4 separate regions of the Homo sapiens genome follow, and all the other regions are linked to region 1. Evidence: fine-mapped expression QTL. A gene starts in region 1. Each other region holds a variant in brackets. All regions are shown on one strand. Distances are between the middles of the regions.

Region 1 (5,137 bases):
ACCAACATGGTGAAACCCCGTCTCTACTAAAAATACAAAAATTAGCTGGGCATGGTGGTGCATGCCTGTAATCCCAGCTACTCTGGAGGCTGAGGCAGGAGAATCGCTTGAACCCGGGAGGTGGAGAGGTTGCAGTGGGCTGAGATTGTGCCACTGCACTCCAGCCTGGGCAACAGAGCAAGACTCCGTCTCAAAAAAAAAAAAAAAAAAGAGTAAGACTGTAGAAGTGGTATTTGGGTGTTTGGGTGGGAGGAATTCGGGAGCTTGATTTTTAGATGTAAGTTTGAAATACCTAGGCCGGGCGCGGTGGTTCACACCTGTAATCCCAGCACTCTGGGAGGCCGAGGCGGGCAGATCACGAGGTCAGGAGATGAGACCATCCTGACTAACACAGTGAAACCACGTCTCTACTAAAAAATACAAAAAATTAGCCAGGCGTAGTGGCAGGCGCCTGTAGTCCCAGCTACTGGGGAGGCTGAGGCAGAATGGCGTGAACCCGGGAGGAGCTCGCAGTGAGCCGAGATCGTGCCACTGCACTCCAGCACTCCAGCCTGGGCAACAGAGCAAGACTCCACCTCAAAAAAAAGAAATACCTATTAGACATCCAACTGGGTATGTATACTAGACAGTTGGATATATGATTCTGGAGTTAGGGGATGAGTCCAGAAAGAAATATAAATTACGGAGCTGTCAGCGTAGAGATGGTGCAGAAAGTCTTGACGCTGAAGGCTGGGCACAGTGGCTCACTCCTATAATCCCAGCACTTTGGGACGCCCAGGTGGGAGGATCGCTTGAGCGAGTTCAATACCAGCCTGGGCAACAAAGGCTGGTATTACAAAGGCCCGTCTCTACAAAAAAATAAAAAGTTAGCCAGGTGTGGCAGCCCAAGCCTGTTGTCCCAGCTACTTAGGAGACTGAGGTGGGAGGATCACTTGAGCCCTGGAGGTTGAGGCTGCAGTGAACCATAATTGTGCCACTGTACTCTAGCCTTGGGGACACAGCAAGACCCCAGTGCCACAAACACACAAGCCTTGACATGGAAAGAGATCACCACATTCTATGTGCCCTCTCATCCCTGCTCACTCCATTACTTGGTGTCCCTAAGCTCAATACTTCCCTTGCTGATCTGAGGCCATACAGTCTGGTGAAAGAGGGCCGGACTCTTGGCTTCTTAACACATTCACATACGTTTGTTTAAAATTTCCAGTGTTTCATGCTTTCAGCCCACAAAGCACAGACACAGTTTTAATGAGAGGTTTTCACATCAGGCCAGAGAATGTCAGTCTTCTCCATCTCCATAGAGATTTTAAAAAGCACACCTCAGACAAAAAAGAAAAACAAGCAATTAAGACTATTTCAGGGCTGGGCACGGTGGCTCACACCTGTAATCCCACCACTTTGGGAGGCCGAGGCGGGCGGATCACCTGAAGTCGGGAGTTCCAGACCAGCCTGACCAAGGAGAAATCCTGTCTCTACTAAAAATACAAAATTAGCTGGGCGTGGTGGCGCGTGACTGTAATCCCAGCTACTCGGGAGGCTGAGGCAGGAGAATCGCTTGAACCCCGGAGGCGGAGGTTGCAGTGAGCTGAATTTCACCATTGCACTCCAGCCTGGGCGACAGAGTGAGAATCCGTCTCAAAAAAAAAAAACGTTTTTTTCACAAGGAATTCTGAGGACTTGTTGGCTCAATTGCTTGGACATAAAGACACACATACATGAAGCTGGAGAGATAGGAAGAAGCGCTCAACACAGAACACCCTAAGTATCCCTACTCCCTTTCAAGGACTAAATCCCTTCAGAGATTTCCTTTGCTTCAGTCCTTCAGGAGCCTCCCGAAGATGCTAGGAGTCGTTTAAGAAGGCTGGAAGATGGCCGTTGGGAAGGAACTGTTGGTAGCTGGCAATACTTCATCCCAAGGAGGCGGTGGCAATAGCTCCCTGGGCAGCAGACATCATGGATTTTCCTCCCTCTGGGAACCAGAGGTCCCTCCGTTTCTGGTTTGAATCCCTTAGAGACAAAGAACTTCATTCTCTCCCATACCCGCGTGGGACTGCTGGGGAGGAGAGGGGGTGGAGGGGTTAGACTTCTACCCCCATGAAACACCCGCGGGCTCAAAGAGGAGCCTGGATCCTGACTGGTCCAGGAGGCGTGCGGGGCCGCGGGGCCCCTCCGGCTTGGGCCAGGCGCGTTGCCAAGATGCCCGGGGAAGGGGCCGCCCGGCGCAGGCCGGGGACGTGGAGCGCTCGGGGCGCTCCCACGTAGGCCACACATTGGCCGCCTGTATCCTCCTTCTTTCCTCTCAACTCCATTCTCTCGCGCTTTTTTCCCGGGGAGCCTCCGCTTTCCCCTTCTTCCCGCGGCCGCCCTCGCCCTTCTTCCCCCTCCAGACCCTCCCCCGGCTCGCCCCTCCCTCGGCAGCCCACCTTCACCCCGCTCCTCCGCGCGCTCCTCGGTCCTCGCCCCTCAGCCCCGGCCTCCCCTCGCCGGCCCCCGGCCCCCGCGGTCCCCTCCCTGCCCCCCTCGAGGCGGCGGCGGCCCCTTTCACAATAGCGCGGCCCGCCTCCCTCCTCTCGGCTCCCGGTGCACTCCCGCCCGCTCCCCTCCCCGCGCATGCGTCCTCCGGTTGGCGGCGGCTGCGGCGGTGGCGGCTACGAGCGGCTCCGTTTTTTTAAAGGGAAACGCTGAGGCGCCGGGGGTGACTGTGGGGGAGGGGGACCCCGAGCCGCGGAGACCCCCGGGAGAGGCGACAGACCCCCTCTCCCGGAGTAGGAGGGCTTTGGGCGGACCCAGCCCTCCACCCCCTCCTGAGGAGGAGGGGGGGGAAATGGAGGCTCGGGGCGGTTGAGGCGAGCTCCGGGGCGGGGGGCCGGGGCGGGGAAGGGGGGGTGCGGGGTGGGGAGACGAGGCGGGCCCGGCCGGGCCAGGGGGGGCCGAAGCGAGCTCCGGGGATGAGCTCGGGGGCGGCTGGGTGCGAGCTCCTGCCTCTGAGGCGAAGGCGGCGGCGGCGGCAGCAGAGGCGGCGGCGAGGCCCCCATGGGCCGGCGGCGGGCCTCAGCCGCGGCCTCCACGTCTCCGCACGCCGGCGGGATGGCGCCCGGGCCCCGGAGGAGCCGCGCTAGCGGAGGCCTGCTGCCGCGCTGCTGAGGCGAGCCCGCCAAACTCCCCTCCCCCCCCTCAGTCCTCGACCCCCCGCACCTCGCCCCTTCCCCACCCCCTCCTCCGCCTCGGTGCCCGGCGCTGCTCCGGACCACTATGACCATGAGATCCGCGGTGTTCAAGGCGGCCGCGGCCCCTGCCGGCGGCAATCCTGAGCAGCGACTGGACTACGAGCGGGCTGCGGCGCTGGGCGGGCCCGAGGACGAGCCTGGGGCGGCCGAAGCCCACTTCCTCCCCCGGCACCGTAAGCTCAAGGAGCCGGGGCCCCCGCTGGCCTCCTCCCAGGGCGGGAGCCCCGCGCCTTCCCCGGCCGGCTGCGGCGGCAAGGGCCGGGGCTTGTTACTCCCGGCCGGGGCGGCCCCCGGGCAGCAGGAAGAGAGCTGGGGCGGTTCGGTGCCCTTGCCCTGTCCGCCCCCGGCCACCAAGCAAGCCGGCATTGGGGGGGAGCCTGCCGCAGCCGGAGCCGGCTGCAGCCCCCGGCCCAAGTATCAGGCGGTGCTGCCCATTCAGACGGGCTCTCTCGTGGCGGCGGCCAAAGAGCCTACGCCCTGGGCTGGGGACAAGGGTGGGGCGGCCTCCCCCGCTGCCACCGCCTCGGACCCGGCGGGACCCCCACCACTACCTCTGCCCGGGCCGCCACCCCTCGCGCCCACCGCCACCGCCGGGACCCTGGCGGCCAGCGAGGGCAGATGGAAGAGTATGAGGAAGAGCCCTCTCGGGGGTGGTGGCGGCTCGGGAGCCTCCAGTCAGGCCGCCTGCCTCAAACAGATCCTTCTGCTGCAATTGGACCTCATCGAACAGCAGCAGCAGCAGCTGCAGGCCAAGGAAAAGGAGATCGAGGAGCTGAAGTCAGAGAGAGACACGGTACGGGAGGGGTTAATCTGCATTCGGGCCGAGGAGCGAGTTGTGCGCATGCTCGGGGGAAGGGGGCTGTAGGAGGTTAAGGCACCCCCGGGTTAGGGGTAAAGGAGGTTGGCCACCGGCAAAGGAGTATCTTAGGCGCTGGGTCTCTGGGAGCCAGGCTCACAGACACGTTGGGTTGGAGGGAAGGGTTAAAGGGCAACCTCTCAGGGGGAGGGGGAGGGGTTTCAGGTGCCAAAGGGTTAATTTAAAATGACAGCCCCAGACGTGTGGGAAAGACGTTTAGTGGAAAAAGACGTGATCTGTGAGGGGTTAAAAATGAAAGGGTGGGGTGTAGGTGTTGTGTCCTTATGGAAGGGTTAAATTAAAGAGCTATTGCGTTAGAAATGCACGGTGGAGGAGAGGGCTGTAGCAAGCAGCTGTTGCTTTCACCACTGCTGCAGCATCTTTAGATAGGAGGGCAGTAGGCCTTTTAGTGGGCACAGGGGTAGAGGTGATTTACGTGGAATCCTATTTTAGTTTTCTTAAATGATATTAAGAGAATCACTGCCTTTGATTTCAGACAGCTTTTAATAGGAACCTGAGTTCTAATACATGACCCACTGACCAGGTCCCTTTTATAAGCATGGTGTTTGAAACTGGAAGATTTTAGGGCATCAGGGGAAAGTAAGCTTATTAAATGTATTAAATAGACCTCCCCATCCTTATTTTAGAATCTTAGGGAGTAGGAAAGTCGTTTATTATTTCTTTACTTCTGAGGAGCTTGGACGACACAGGCTTGTTTTTACTGCAGCAGTAGTTAAGGGCATCTCTGCGTTAAAACATATTCCTTCAGATATGAGGGAAGCTGGGGTGGGGGGTATTACTGTGCTAGCATACCTTACAGCTGCCTAAAAATAAACATGGTTTCTACAATTGTTGTGTTCAGGCTGCAGCAGTCTCTCTCTCCCTCTCTCCCTCCCTCTTCCTCCCTCCCTGTCTCTTTCCCTTTCTCTCTCTCTCTCTCTCCCTCCCTCCCCGCCGTCCTCATCTCTCCCTCTCTCCTCTTTCTCTCTGGCGTCGTGTGCGCTAAGAGCTGAGCAAGGGAGCAAGCGGCTATTCATTTTGTTTGCTTTCCAAA
Region 2 (5,145 bases), 75 kb after region 1:
GGGATTGTGGGAGGGATTGGCAGCCTTCTTCTCCACCACCTGTCCAGCTTCTTCCTGGTCAGGGCTGGGACCCCCAGGAATATTATGTTGCCGTGTGTGTGTGTGTGTGTGTGTGTGTGTGTGTGTGTGTGTGTGTGTGTGTGTGTGTGTCTTCTTTTAGGGAGCAGGAGTGCATCTGGTAATTGAGGGTGGATGTTGTGTGTGCTGGGGAGGGGTCCTTCTGTTTGGTGCTACCCTTGTCTACTCTGCCCCTGGATGGTGCGGGGTGCTTTCTCCACCCCCACACTCCCTGCTCAGCTCCTCGTGCTGCCCTGCATGCCCAGGCTTGTGAGCCAAGCTGCTTTTTGGGGCAGGGAGTAGCAGCAGGTGGGAGGGGTTACCCATCAGCCCTTGCAAGTCCCCCACTCAGGCCTCTGGAAGGTCCAGGGATGGGCTCTGATGAGAGGGTAAAAGATGCTCAGGGAAACACAGGCCTCAGCTGCCTAGAGGACCCTCCCCCTGCCTTGCAGTGGGCTCGGGTAGAGCAGTATCAGGAGCTAGGGTTGTCTGCTGCCCACACTCCTGCTTTTTGGGATATCTAACTGCTAAGGAGGGAGTTGACATCCCCCTTCTGGCTCATGTGTCTGACACCAACAACATGGTCTCTGTCCCTCTCTCTTTGACTCTCCCTTTGTCCTCCCCATAGAGCTGGGGTGGGGTGGATCCCTATACCTGGGGCAGGCAGCCCCAAAGTGGGGGAGGGGGATGGCAGAGACTGTAAAGGCGCCACTGGACTCTGGCAAGGCCTTTATTACCTTTACTCCCCTCCCTCTCCCATCACCAGCCTCAAGGCCTGAGGGGTGCAGGGGCTCCTGGCAGCTACTGGGTGAGGTTTCCTGGCACAGACTCACCCTTCTTTCTGGCACCACCTCTTTCCCTTTTGAAGAGACAGCAACAGCCGTAGCAAAAGCAGCTGCTGCTCCTGCTATGAGGGTGTATATATTTTTTACCCAAAGCTCTGGAATTGTACATTTATTTTTTAAAACTCAAAGAGGGAAAGAGCCTTGTATCATATGTGAACATTGTATCATAGGTAATGTTGTACAGACCCTTTTATACAGTGATCTGTCTTGTTCCTGCAGCAAAAATCCTCTATGGACATAGGAGGTGCTGTGTCCCATGCCCTCTTGCCCTGACAGTGTCCCATGGGCCCCCTTCTGCTCCCTGCCCCCTCCCTGCTACTGCTGATGCACTCTCCTCTCCCTGCAGCCCCTGGCTTCCCAGCCTTCCTCCTGACCCCTTCCAACAGCCTTGGAACTCCAGCTGCCACCACCCTCTGGGTCGGACACTGGGACCCACTGGCCCAGTCTTGGCTGCTGCTTACCCCTAGCCTTGATGCCTGCCCAGGGACCCCCAGCCCCCTCCCGTTGCCCTGCAGCTTTAACAGAGTGAACCATGTGTATTGTACAGGCGCGGTTGTCATTGCAGAAACCGCTGGGTGGAGAAGAAGCCGATAAAGTCTATGAATCAACCTGCCTGTTGTTCTCCATTCTGTTTTCTTTGAGGCTGTGGAAGTGCTGAGGGAGGGGAGAGGGGATGGCCGCCCAGTGCTGTCAGGAGCAGGGCTGTTCTGGAGTGACTTTGAAAATGTGGGTGGCGGGGTACAGTGGCTCATGCTTGTAATCCCAGCACTTTGGGAGGCCGAGGCGGGCAGATCACCTGAGGGCGGGAGTTCGAGACCAGCCTGGCCAACATGGTGAAACCCTGTCTCTACTAAAAATACAAAAATTAGCCAGGTGTGGTGGTGCATGCCTGTAATCCCAGCTACTTGGGAGGCTGAGTCAGGAGAGTAGCTTGAACTCAGGAGGCGGAGGTTGCAAGGCGCAGTGGCTCTCCAGCCTGGGCAACAGAGCAAGACTCTGCCAAAAAAGAAAATGTGGATGAGAGGAAAAGATGCCAACCTCACAAGACATGTCACATAATGCCTGGAACTCAGAAGAGGGGATGGGATGTTTTCGTTCATACATGTTCCAGGTGGCATAAATATGAGATCACATTTAATTCTAATGCTAAGGTAGAAGATTGAGGCACAGCAGTCCCAGAATAATTACTAGTGAGGGCACTGGTCCCCTAACCCAGGTCTGTCCCCTGAAGACAGCATGTACTGTTCACACAACCAATATTTACCAGTTCTACTAAGTTTTGTTTTGTTTTGTTTTTTTTGAGACGGAGTCTTGCTCTGTTGCCCAGGCTGGAGTGCAGTGGCGTGATGTCTGCTCACTGCAAGCTCTGCCTCCCAGGTTCATGCCATTCTCCTGCCTCAGCCTCCCAAGTAGCTGGGACTACAGGTGCCCACCACCATGCCGGGCTA[A/ATT]TTTTTTTTTTAATATTTTTAGTAGAGATGAGGTTTCACTGTGTTAGCCAGGATGGTCTGGATCTCCTGACCTCGTGATCTGCCCACCTCGGCCTCCCAAAGTGCTGGGATTACAGGCTTGAGCCACTGCGCCTGGCCCAATCCTACTAAGATTATAGGGTGCAGAGAGCCTAGCGTTAGGCTTAAATGATAGCCTGAGTTCCAGGAGACATCATACACTCAAATAGCTATACCTGGGCCCTTGATAATCCCCATTCACATCTGTTTCTGCCTCAGTCTTCTGCATCTCAGAAAAATGATCCTCTCATCCACCCAGGTTTTCTCTCTCTGTTGCCCAAGCTGGAGTGCAGTGGCGTAATCTTGGCTCACTGCAACCTCTGCCTCCCAGGTTCAAGTGATCCTCCTGCCTCAGCCTCCTGAGTAGCTGGGATTATAGGCAGAGGCCACCACACCCGGCTAATTTTTGTATTTTTAGTAGAGATGGGGTTTCACCATGTTGGTCAGGTTGGTCTCAAACTCCTGACCTCAAGTGATCCACCCACCTCAGTCTTCCAAAGTGCTGGGATTACAGCTGTGAGCCACTGCCCAGCCACCTACCCAAGTTTTCAAGGCAAAAATACAGGACTCACCATTGGTGCCTCTTTCTCCCACCCTTCATTCATCTCAGCCAGTCCCATCGGCTACAATTCCAGAGCATTTTCTGAGTGATCCACTTCTGTATGACTCCCCTATGACCATACTAGTCCAAACCACCTTCATAGCTTCCCTGCATGACTACTGCAGCCTCCTACCTGGTCTGTCAGCTTCCTCTCTTTGATCCACCCCTACCTGCCACCAGTTTGATTTCCACATGGCAGCCAGGGTGTTCTTTCAGAAACACCAATCACGCTGGGCATGGTGGCTCAAGCCCATAATCCTAGCACTTCGGGAGGCTGAGGCAGGAGGATCGCTTGAGCCCAGGAGTTCAAGACCAGCTTGGGCAACATAGTGAGACCCTGTCTCTACAAAAAATAAAAAATTAACGAGGCTGCAGTGAGCTGCGATAGCACCACTGTACTATAGCCTGAGCAACAGAGTGAGACCCTGTTTAAAAAAAAAAAAAAAAAGAAAGGAGAGCAAGGGAAGGAGGGAGGGAGGGACAGAGGGAGGGAGAGAGGGAGGGAGGAAGGAAAGAAGGAAGGAAGGAAGGAAGGAAAAAAACCCAGTGTCTTTCAACACATGAATGGACAAATGCATTGGGGCATATTCTTATGGTGGAATACTATATAGCAAGAAAAAAGAACAAATTATTAATACCCACGTGAATGAATCTCACAGACTTAATGTTGAATAAAGGAAGCCAGACACAGGCTGGGTATGTTGGCTCACACCTCTAATCCCAGCACTTTGGGGGCCTGAAGTAGGAGTGAGAGGTGAAGCTGGCTGGGCTTCTGGGTCAGGTGGGGACTTGGAGAAGTTTTCTGTCTAGCTAAAGGATTGTAAATGCACCAATCAGTGCTCTGTGTCTAGCTAATCAGGTAGGGGACTTGGAGAACTTTTCTGTCTAGCTAAAGGATTGTAAAAGCACCAATCAGCGCTGTGTGTCTAGCTAAAGGTTTGTAAATGCACCAATCAGTGCTCTGTGTCTAGCTAAAGGTTTGTAAATGCAGCAATCAGTGCTCTGTGTCTAGCTAAAGGTTTGTAAATGCACCAATCAGCACTCTGTAAAAACGAACCAATCAGCACTCTGTAAAACGGACTAATCAGCATTCTGTAAAATGGACCAATCAGCGCTCTGTAAAATGGACCAATCAGCAGGATGTGGGTGGGGCCAGGCCACCCGAGCCAGTAGCGGCAACCCACTGGGGTCCCCTTCCACGCTGTGGGAGCTTTGTTCTTTTGCTCTTTGCAATAAATCTTGCTGCTGCTCACTCTTTTGGTCCGCACTATATGAGCTGTAGCACTTACCACAAAGGTCTGCAGCTTCACTCTTGAAGCCAGCGAGACTACGAACCCACTGGGAGGAACAAACAACTCCAGAAGCGCCACCTTTAAGAGCTGTAACACTCACTGCTGAAGGTCTGTGGCTTCATTCCTGAAGTCAGGGAGAGGACGAACCCACCAGAAGGAAGAAACTGGACACATCTGAACACCTGAAGGAACAAACTCCGGACACACCATCTTTAAGAGCTAACACTCACCGTGAGGGTCTGTGGCATCATTCTTGAAGCTTCATTCTTGAAGTCAGCAAGACTAAGAACCCACTGGAAGGAACCAGTTCTGGACACAGGAGGATCTCTTAAGCCCAGGAGTTCAAGACCAGCCTGGCCAACATAGTGAGACCCCTATCTCTACAAAAAATAAAAAATGTAGCTGGGCATGGTGTGTCGCGCCTGTAATCCCAGCACTTTGGGAGGTTGAGGCAGGAGAATCCCTTGAGTCCAGGAGTTTGAGACCAGCTCAGGCAACATAGGGAGACCTTGTCTCTACAAAAAAATAAAAAAATAGGCCAGGTGCGGTGGCTCATGCCTGTAATCCCAGCATTTGGGAGGCCGAGGTGGGTGGATCACCTGAGGTCGGAAGTTTGAGACCAGCTGACCAGCATGGAGAAACTGTCTCCACTAAAAATACAAAATTAGCTGGGCGTGGTGGCACATGCCTGTAATCCCAGCTACTCGGGAGGCTGAGGCAGGAGAATCGCTTGAACCTGGGAGGCAGAGGTTGTGGTGAGCTGAGAGCGTGCCATTGCACTCCAGCCTGGGTAACAAGAGCAAAACTCCATCTCAAAAAAAAAAAAAAGGCTGGGCAGGGTGGCT
Region 3 (5,145 bases), 970 kb after region 1:
CTTGTCTGTGTGCATTTGCATGAGGAACTGAACTGTTGTTTTCAGTGGTGACCCACTGTGGAGTCCTGCCCACAAATGGCACATATTGATCCACCACAGAAAACCTCTAGGCCTCAGCTCAGTTCCTCTTTTTAAGAAGAAAACTGGGAAACAAATAATCTAAGAATGAGGAGAAAGCAAAGAGAATGATTCCCTTTCAAGCACTCCATAGGTTTTATGGCACCTGTACTTGCCAGAGTTTAAGTAAAATGGAAGTAATATGGTCTTTGTGCATATTTACATTAAGAAAGAAAGGGCCCATGTAAATTAGTTCAACCATTGTGGAAGACAGTATGGTGATTCCTCAAGGATCTAAAATCAGAAATACCATTTGATCCAGCAATCCCATTACTTGTTATATACCCAAAGGAATACAAATCATTCTACTGTAAAGACACAGGCACATGTATGTTTATTGCAGCACTATTTACAAGAGCAAAGACATGGAACTAACCCAAACGCCCATCAATTATAGACTTGATAAAGAAAATGTGGTACATATACACCATGGAATACGATGCAGCCATAAAACGGAGTGAGTTCATGTCCTTTGTAGGGACATGGATGAAGCTGGAAACCATCATCCTCAGCAAACTAACACAGAAACAGAATACCAAATACAACATGTTCTCACTCACATATGGGAGTTGAACTTTGAGAACACATGGACACAGAGAGGAGAGCAACACATATCAGGGGCTGTTGGGGGGTGGGGAATGAGAGGAGGGAACTTAGAGGATGGGTCAATAGGTGCAGCAAACCACCAAGGCACACATATACCTATGTAACAAACCTGCACGTTCTCCTGCATGTATATTTCATTTTTTTTTAGAAGAGAAAGAAAAGAAGGAAAGAAAGCAAGAAAGCAAGAAAGAGAAAGAAAGAAAGCAAGCAAGCAAGAAAGAAAGAAAGAAAGAAAGAAAGAAAGAAAGAAAGAAAGAAAGAAAGAAAGAAAAGAAGAGCCTTAAGGTGGACCTACAAACTACAGAGTTCCTAAGTTCTCTTTTTTCTCTATTTTCTTTTCTGCCTGCTTTAAATCTGCTGTTATTTTTCTATTAAGATCAAAACCACTGTTTGGATACAACAGTTTTTTTGCTTGCAAGCTGGTGAATTTGTATTTGTCTCATGGCTAAAGTTCTGAAGTAAAAGCTATAGGATGTGTGTGTGTGTGTGTGTGTGTGTGTGTGTGTGTGTGTATTTAAAAGGCCTTTATAATTTTTATAATTTTATGTTTATTTGGCAATGAAGTCCATTTTAATTTCCCTCTAGCACCACCAGACTTTTTCTCTCTGTACCTTAAGACATAAATTTTGCTCTTTGATTTTTGCCTGAGTTGTTTCCTTTAATATGCAAACTTAAAGCCATTTAGCTGACAACTTCCTAGGGGATTAAAACAGGTTATTGAGAATTTGAAAGTCTAAGATAGTGGAAAAATCTTCTTATGAATCTATAAGATGTACTTCTATCAACATGCCTACTAGGTCTATGTATTTATGTGTTGTGTACACAATGTCTCACTACTGAAAATATATAAAAGGGCTCTAATTAATTGGCTTAAGAAAAAAAGCACTTAAATCAAATACTTATTAGGAAAAAAGAAAAGACTAGTTGAATGCTTTCTCAAGTTTATGTAACTTAAGTAAAATCTTTAATAAATAAGCTACTTTTAAAATGATTGGTAAAGTAATATTAGACATGTCTTAAGAATTGCCAGCATGCATTTTGTTTGCATTTATTAATCAAGCAATTTCATGTTTATCCCTGTCAAATACTATAAGGTGTCAAAATTTGGCATGGGGTTACAAAACTGTGATAGAATGATCTTTGCTTGTGTAATCTTTAATAAATAAGACATTGATACTGGTTTAATAAAAATAGCCACATCTTGAATTTAGTCAGATTACCATAACTTCTAATCTTGTGGCTTTTAGTGGTCTAGTCCACAGGCAGTAATATTTACTTTGGGAATGAAATATTATAATCTTTGTTTCAAAGGTAAACTATAAACTATTTTCCTCTCAAAGTCTGTTCAGCCTGTGCTGGTAAGAAAGCTTAAAGAGAAATAATTTCATATGAGAAAGAATCTTGTATGGTAAATTTAGACCTAAAATAAAATGACTGATTGTTTAAGAAAGATGGATGTTCAAAACAAACTAGATAGTCCAAGCATATCATGAACAGTCTCTATAAGTCATAAGAGGATTTATTTTAAAAAAATACCAAAAAACTTTTATATGATTGAGTTGTCTATAATTAAAGGGAAATTATAATGGTCTTCCTGAAGATTGGGCTTCATGCTAAAAAAAACACTTATAGACTAAATAATTAGTTACAGCGATGAAATTTTCTTAAGGGATTGATTTACTCTTAATAAATTATAAGAGATTTTAATTTTTTAACCCAAAGTTCAACTATTTACTTGCTGTTTTCTCTCCCCTTCAACTTGTTTTCAGCTCATATAAGTTATTTTCCTTAAGTTCTGTTTGTTGTGGCCTGATGCTAACAATGTTTTCTAAAAGTCTAAAGGAAATGTTTTCTTCCAAAGTAATACTCTGTGCAGTGTAGAAGGTCTTTTCTTTTGCCTTTTGGTAATTGACCTAACAGATTTTATGGCTTATTGAAACAATTCCTATGCCATTATTATTAATTTTTGGTTTGCTTAGGAAAAAGAAACTGAGACAATTTTTTTAAAAAATTAACGTTATTACATCCATGTATATTTCTGTGTGCACTTTGAAAGTACCTGTGACATTGAGTTACCGGCCTTTAACTCCTGGATCTAAAAAGGAGACCAAGATCTGCTAAATCTTAAACACTGACAGCAATTAAAACCTCATCTTCAGGCCTGGTAGAAGATGCCTATCAAAATAAGCTGCATTTCTGAGACATAAGGCCATAAATCAAAGCTATTCAACTCTTCAAGACTCAGGAACAATCACAGAAGAGGTAGGCATGTGAGATTATAAGGGCTGATTTTGAGAGATAAAATAAGTTCAGTCTCTATACAAGTTAATAATTGATGTCAAAGGCACACTGATG[C/T]AATACCAGCATATGGGCCCCTGTGTCAGATTAACAAGGTTTTCTTGAAGTGTTAACTGACCCCTTAATAAAGGTTATAAAGGTTATAAAAGGCTTATGAAAGTTGTATCTTATGGTCAAGATTAAAATGTTATAGATTGTTTAAAAAATTTTGAAAAACAAATTTAATTGGCTTTATGCTGTTTTATTTGGGCTTATTGTTTGAAAAATTGACTTATTTTATGATGACCTGTCATATCAAGTGTTTTAAACCTTTGATATTTGACAAACTTTCCAAAATCAAATTACAAGTTGTGTATTTTTCTGACCTAATTAATCCTTTAAGATATTAGTTTCCCTCAAGTCCAAAAATGAAATAATTTGACTTATTTGGTATAAAAATTATACAGGAAGCATTGTCAAATATAAAATGGTGTTTGGTTTTATTTGGGCTGTATTTGTATAAAATTGTTATTGGTATGTGCACCAAAATTATGGGAAACTCCTATAATTCTGATATGACCTGGTGTACATTATCAGTAATAATTATGATTGTTATATTAAATTATTGTGTGCCATGGTGGTAACAAATTTTCTTGTCAATTGTATCTTCGCCTATGGCTGACCTAAAACTTTTTGTCACCCATGGACAATTTTTGTCTTGTTTTAGTCCTCTTTAGAAGATGGTTTTATAATCAGCTATAAAACTCTAACAGGTATTCTTGAATGCAGGTTTCTAATAACTCTGGAGATTGTGACATCACAATGAAGGAAAAGCTTTCAGGACTCATGGAGACCTGAAATGTTCATGAATAGCAAGCAGAACAGGAATTAACTGCATGAACTGAACTAACAGAAGACTGAAGTAATCTTTTTGACTTTTTGCTTAAAACATTGCTGACCCTTTATTTTGTTTTTTTCAGTCAAGGAAACTTTTCTTTTGAGCTGTTGTCAGCTTTTAACAAGTTAGTATACTCCTGTGAAAAATATTTGGAGCATATTTGTTTCTCTCTACCTGATTTTCCCTAGAATTGGAAACTATCTGTGAGTATTCTTAACTTATGGCAATACAGTTATTTGCGTAAGTGCAATAAGAATCTGTTTTCATTTGTAACAGGACACGATAAATTGGTCATTTTACCAAGGCTTTTACTTGAATGGTGTGCTCTTCTTTGAGGAATCAAACTTGACTTATGGAGCCAATAAAAGCCCCTTGGGAGAACTGGCCTCATACCTTATCTACACAGTCCCTGTACAGGGTTCCTGACCTGTGGTAAGTAAAGCATGTCACTTTCTAACAGTTCCAGGAGCCCCAAGTTTATCTTGGAACCTCAAGAGGAGAGGAATTCACCCAACTCATAGGTATTTGATGGTACAAATCCATGGCTAGGCTAAGCTTTCCAAAAGTCTTATCCGAAATTCCTTCTATGGAACAAAGTTCTGATAGGGCCAGGGGACAGAGAAATTCTAGGCAGAAAAGGATAGGTCTCTGACAAAACCCCACCTTCAAGCTGAAAAGCCTTAAACCATGGCCCAAAGTGACAACTTATATCCCTGTTTTCCTGCTTGAAAGTTGCCTTTTTCTAAACCACTCATGGCCCCATCCTGTCCCATCCTGTGCCTGTGAAGATCTCAGACTGAGCTGGCAGAGGCAAGAAGCAGCTGGATGTTGGGGACTACAGCCGGACATCAGAGAGAAGCAGCTTGACTGCAGAGGGACAGCTTGATGGTGTAACCTTGGAGAAGAATCCGGCTGGATACAGCCTAACTTTGAGGAAGATTACCTACCCACCCCATCCTTTTTCAGCTCCCTTCCTGCTAAGAGCCACTTTCATCAGCAACAAAATCCCCCACATTTACCATCCTTTGATTGGTTCATGTGACCTCACCTTTCCTGGACACCCGACAAGAGCTTGGGAGCCAGGAGAGCAGATACAAAAGGCTGTCACACTGGCCTTCTGCTCTTGCTGTTGGAGGGCAGCTGCCTCATGCAAAAAGGCAGAGGGCTCACTGAGCTGTTGACACTTAAGCCATCCATGGAAGGCAGAGTTAAAAGAGCACTGTAACATGACTTCTGGGGCTATGGGA
Region 4 (5,145 bases), 30 kb before region 1:
CACGCCAGCCGCTTCCTCCACATGAAAGTCGAGTGCCCCACCGAACTCTTCCCCCCACTCTTCCTCGAGGTCTTTGAGGATCAGGAAGTCTAAAGCCTCAGGCGGCCAGAGGGTGTGCGGAGCTGGTGGGGAGGAGCCTGGAGAGAAGGGGCAGAGCTGGGGGCTGAGGGAGACCCCCCCACACCCCTTCTCTCCTTCCTCTCGTCCTTGGATAGATTCAGCTCCCACACACACACCCGCACTGCCCAGGTCCCTCCTCAGACCTCCAGCCCTGGGACAGGGCAAACAACTGAACTTGCTATGGAAAGGACAGTGTGGGAGGCTGGGGGAGCTGTGTCCTGCAGTTCCCAGGACCCCATCCTCTCAGAAGGTAGGGGAAGGGCGGGAGGATTGAGAAGGGACAAGCCACCTTGACCGTAGGGGAAGGAGGAATGTGGGCTGGGGGAAGATGCCCTCAACTCACCCCCTACACACACATGAGAGAGAGCCCCCACCCAGTTCCTTGGCCTAGGTCTCCCCTCCAGGCTGAGGGCCTCTCTACTTCCCCAGATGCCTGGGTGCAAAGAACGGCTTGGCTTGGCTCCTCCTCTGGAGGTTAAAATTTATAGTCATTCTAACTGCACTTTGGAAACCAAGCAAGGGGAGAAGACAAATGAAGAAAAACTAGACAGAGAGAAAAATACAAAAAAGAGAGAGCGAGCGATAGAGAGAGATGATATTAAGTTATTAACTGAGGCTGACCAGAGGGGAGGACCCCCCCTTTACCACCCCATGCACTTTGCGAGCTGCCCCTTCTTCCCCCACATCAGAGAGAAATGCCCCCACACCAGAGCCCCAAGGGTAGGGCTGCCGATCAGAGCTGTGAGTTAACACAACAGGGTCCTGGCCACCCCCCTTGCCATACCCCGCCCTCTGTGCCCCTTTGGCACCCCCCAACCCTAGTATGTCCTCTGCTTTCTGCCACTCGTGCCCGCTGAGTTCCATCTACCTCTCATGCTGGATGCCAGCTGGCCCCTCACCAGCCTGCCCTGCTGCCCACACAGCTCCCCTTTAAGTGCCCAGCCCTAGGGGCCTCTCCCCATCCACCTCCTCCTTCCACACCTTGGCACCCACCCAGGAAAAAACTGTGGCTCCAACTCCTACCCTCCTTATATCCTGCAGTATTAGCTAGAAACCGGATGCTGCTGCATTGGTTGGGTCGGGGGTAGGAGGGCTGTGCGTGAGCGTCTCCCAGAACCCTCCACCCCTTTAGCACTCTGTTTCCCTGTTTCCCATCTGTCTTCTGGGCTCTCTCTAACCTCTGCCCTCCTCCCCAGCTCCTACTCACTGCACTAACTCTGGGCGGGCAGGTACCAGAATGGGGGTGTTTAGATAAGTGACACTTAGTTGGGGCCCCAGGGGAGGGGTGGTCGGTGCTCCTTTTTCTTTAAAGCTCTTTTGGCCAGCTGCCCCTCTGCCCCGGGACCCCTTCCCCTCTTCTTTTCTCTAATTCAGGGACTTTGGCTTGAGCCCCTCTCGCCCTCCTGGTGAGGGTGCTCTGTTGGTCTGCACTTGGGTGAGCTGTCCTCCTCCCCCTCCCTGTGGCTGCCGCCCACTCCTCAGGGGAGAGAGGGAGAGAGGAGGTGGTCCTCCCATGGGAGCAGGAGGTGGGGTGGGACAGAGCAGACCAGAGGGTGCTGGGCTCAGGGCTGCATGTCGGCAGGGATGGATGGGTGGACACAGATGCCCCCGGAAGCCATGGGGATTGGGGCAGGGGGTGGGGGGAGGGGTGCCAGGGCTTCCTGCGCTTTGCACTATTGGGGCAAAAATGTCTTAAGCAGTGGGGAACCTGCCACCCCACCCTGACCCTCAGCCTGCCACAGCCCCCTACACACACACACACACACACACACACACACACACACACACGGACATGCACACACGGACATGGGAAGGCAATGCTATGCTGCCCGTCAGGGCACTGTCCTTCCCCAATCGTTCAGGTGTTCCAACAGGGGTGGAGGGCCTGGAGGAGCACCCGCTGTCACCTGTGCATGTGCCTGTCCCACCCTGCTGGGGCCTCGGGCTGCCCGCGCTGTCTTTGTCTCTATCCTCTCTCTCTCTCCTGGAGTACTGAATCCTGTATTACTCCAGTCCCATGGGTAGGCCCTCTTGTACCTTCCTACCACGCCTGGGGGCCCAGTGGAATTCCTGACCTGTCTGCTGTCTTCCCCATCCCTCCATCCCCACCCCAACCCCTCCATCCCCATTCTCAGCCATGGACACGGCAGAGAAAAGGCCTTGAAGAGCCTTAGCCTCTTATAGGCACTTGGGACTCCCCCACCCTCCCCAATCATATGAGCTGTGATCCCATCCTCCCCGGACCCCTCCCTTCCCCCTCGGTGATGTGGGGTGTATGTGTGCGTTCCTCTGCGTGAATGTGTGAGTGAGTACACATGGTAGGGGAGGAGCCAGGGCGACTCAGGAGTGCCACGCACCTGCTCTAGAGCGGCAGCTGTCCCAGTCCCTGCTGTGGAAGTGGGGGACAGGGCCCTCTCCTGGGGGCCATTGGTGCTAATGAGGGGGATGGCCTTGATGTGGGTGCTCAGCATGCCTCCCCCAGTATTGGCCCGGGGCACTAGGGCAGGCAGGGTGGAGCAGCAGGTGCAGTATCGGTGGGAGGACGGGTTGCTGGGAATAGGACGAGGGGGCCAGGCCAGGACAAGGGGTTGCCAGAGCCATGACCACTACCCCGCCC[C/T]CACCACCCGCCTCTCCATCTCAGTATTGCCCCTCCCATCACTCATAACACACATACCTCATCCAGCCTCCTCCCTGCTCAGACTTGGGGAGGGTGGGGGAGGAGCCCCTACCCCTTCTCCTGGTGGCGGGTCTGCAGGGCTGGGAGAGGGCAGGGCGTTGTGAGAGAGAGACCGTCCATAAGGAGGACAGTAACTCCTGCCCTGGGAACTCCTGGGCGGGGGGGAGGGGGACACTGCCCAGAGGCGCTACTGAATGTATGAGAAGCTGGTGCTGGGCTGGGGGGAGGGGGGTTGTGGCCAGAAACAGGGAAGGAGGTAGGTCTCTTCCCCAGGGAGGGGTGGGACCGGCAGGGGTGACTTGAGGGGCTCCTACTCCTGCCCCACGTTGACAATCAGTATGTCTGTTATGTGCGATTTTTCACCCCGTTGTGTTTTGGGTCAGGATTTTAAAGAAAGATATTTTTATGGTAATTGTTGCTCGTCTATTTTACTATATATTTATGTAATAAATATATGATGAAAATAACCCCCTTGGGCACCCCCCTTAGACTTGTGTGCTGTTTCCCTATATCCTCCCATCTGCTGGCAGAGTACCCACCCCACAAACTGACCAGATGGAGAGGTGGCCCCCCCCAGCCTTGGCAGTATTTCCACCCCACCCCCCAAACGAGCACACACCACAGAAGCCAGCTCAGCTGTGAACTATTGGATTTGAGACAGGAACAGAACAAATCAGAGGGCCAGGGGAGGGTTGTGGGGGAGACAGAGTGGTTTAAATAGGGGAGGAGGGGAAGTTCGGTGATGGGGGAGGGAGGCAGGTATTTACAAGAAGGCTCAGGGGGCCAGAGGCTCATCTTGGAATATTTTATAACAATATAAATAAGATTCTGGTTTGCTTTTCCTTTTCGTCTCGTAAAGGAGAGAGAAGTGCAGAGTTCGATTCTGTACAAGGGGGCAGCGGCAGAAGGCCGGCCGGGCGGGTCACTGGGCGTCCACCCGGAAGGACAGCAGCTTCTCGGAATGCATGTTGTTCAGGGTCCGCAGGTCCGGCAGCTTGAGCAGCAGCTTGGTGAAGCGGGAAGTCTCCAAGGGCCGGTTCTTCAGCACCAGAGCCCGAAGAGCCCGCAGCAGCGTCTCCTGGAGCTGCTCCACCGAAGCGGAATTCTCCATGCCCGAGCGGTCTGTGGGGAAGACGACAGCAGTGAGGCGGACTCCCCGAGCTCCTCTGAGGAGGAACCGGAGGTCTGCGAGGACCTGGCAGGCAATGCAGCCTCTCCCTGAAGCCCCCCAGAAGGCCGATGGGGAAGGAGAAGGAGTGCCATACCTTCTCCCAGGCCTCTGCCCCAAGAGCAGGAGGTGCCTGAAAGCTGGGAGCGTGGGCTCAGCAGGGCTGGTCACCTCCCATCCCGTAAGACCACCTTCCCTTCCTCAGCAGGCCAAACATGGCCAGACTCCCTTGCTTTTTGCTGTGTAGTTCCCTCTGCCTGGGATGCCCTTCCCCCTTTCTCTGCCTGGCAACATCTTACTTGTCCTTTGAGGCCCCAACTCAAGTGTCACCTCCTTCCCCAGCTCCCCCAGGCAGAAATAGTTGTCTGTGCTTCCTTGGTTCATGCTTCTACTGTGACACTTATCTCACTGTTTTATAATTAGTCGGGCATGAGTCTGTTTCCCAAGCTAGACTGTGTCTGAATCATGTCTGTATCCCCAGTGCCCGGTGCAGGGCCTGGCATAGAGTAGGTACTCCATAAAAGGTGTGTTGAATTGAACTGCGTCTGCCTCCTCCCCCGGGTCAGGCGAGAGCCTGACCTACCTGCAGAGACAAGCACCACCGCGGTGAAGAGGCCCAGCTCCTCCTCGGTAAGCGCCAGGGAGTTGAGCTTCTCGCTGAAGTCGAACATGGCACTGAGCAGGTCTCCCATGCCCATGGCACCAAGCTCCTGCAGGCTGTAGGTGGTGCGGCTTAGGAACATCACTGTCTGGTCCTTCACGTTGAACAACGAAGCAAAGCGCACCATCAGCACCTAGGAGGGAAGGGGAACAGTCATCCTGGGTGTGGTGGGAGGAGCACTGACCAAATCGCCCCTGTAGTTTGCCAGAGGGTTTAGCGGTGCTGCCTTCGATTTCTCAGTAGAGTGGGGGTTGTTTCTGAATGGCCAATGAGGGAGCCCAGGTGGAAGGATGGCTTTGGGATCCAATAAGCCTGAATCTGAGTGTCAGCTTTGTCACTACCTGTGACCTTGGGCAAGGCATTCACCAAAGTTAATCTGCTCTTGTCTAGAATGGGGGCAGCAGTGCACCCAAGGCATTATTTCAGTGTAATGGGTTGTGATTAAATTCCAGCTGAGATGACAGAAGTCCCAGCCATCAAGAGGAAGCAGCAGGAGCCGCTCAGCCCCTTTCACCAATC

Alleles and levels. Positions count from the first base shown, and alleles are read on the strand shown. Sizes are in standard deviations (SD) of each study's normalised expression. Not every link is listed here.
With allele T in place of C in region 3, the expression in neutrophils of the gene that starts at base 2,611 in region 1 is lower (large effect, 1.0 SD a copy in BLUEPRINT).

The links. PIP is the estimated chance that this variant, and not a neighbour inherited with it, causes the effect.
Region 2: its variant is the best candidate, but not a certain one, in a credible set for the expression of MSL1 in whole blood (INTERVAL, PIP 0.51).
Region 3: its variant is the best candidate, but not a certain one, in a credible set for the expression of MSL1 in neutrophils (BLUEPRINT, PIP 0.81).
Region 4: its variant is the best candidate, but not a certain one, in a credible set for the expression of MSL1 in monocytes (TOPMed, PIP 0.57).

What each region holds. Positions count from the first base shown.
Region 1 is chr17:40,119,361-40,124,497 of GRCh38, forward strand. MSL1 (MSL complex subunit 1) reads left to right here and starts at 2,611. Exons shown (of 9, transcript NM_001365919.1): 1 at 2,611-4,020. The coding sequence starts at 3,253. LOC124904001 (a long non-coding RNA gene) reads right to left here and starts at 2,480. Exons shown (of 2, transcript XR_007065752.1): 1 at 2,424-2,480; 2 at 1,169-2,053. RefSeq lists silencers at 2,062-2,221, 2,452-2,651, 2,692-2,901, 2,962-3,101, 3,202-3,251 and 1 more and an enhancer at 3,452-4,090.
Region 2 is chr17:40,194,141-40,199,285 of GRCh38, forward strand. It overlaps RAPGEFL1 (Rap guanine nucleotide exchange factor like 1), which reads left to right. Exons shown (of 15, transcript NM_016339.6): 15 at 1-1,510. Among named protein-coding and RNA genes, the nearest start is that of MIR6867, 3.1 kb to the left of the region's middle. RefSeq lists enhancers at 303-803, 428-477. The variant A/ATT (reference allele first, on the strand shown) is at 2,351.
Region 3 is chr17:41,089,129-41,094,273 of GRCh38, forward strand. No RefSeq gene overlaps it. Among named protein-coding and RNA genes, the nearest start is that of KRTAP4-8, 6.4 kb to the right of the region's middle. The variant C/T (reference allele first, on the strand shown) is at 3,079.
Region 4 is chr17:40,089,364-40,094,508 of GRCh38, forward strand. THRA (thyroid hormone receptor alpha) reads left to right here. Exons shown (of 9, transcript NM_199334.5): 9 at 1-3,639. The coding sequence ends at 93. NR1D1 (nuclear receptor subfamily 1 group D member 1) reads right to left here. Exons shown (of 8, transcript NM_021724.5): 7 at 4,549-4,759; 8 at 3,430-3,919. The coding sequence ends at 3,720. Among named protein-coding and RNA genes, the nearest start is that of NR1D1, 8.7 kb to the right of the region's middle. RefSeq lists enhancers at 1,227-1,852, 1,853-2,479. The variant C/T (reference allele first, on the strand shown) is at 2,738.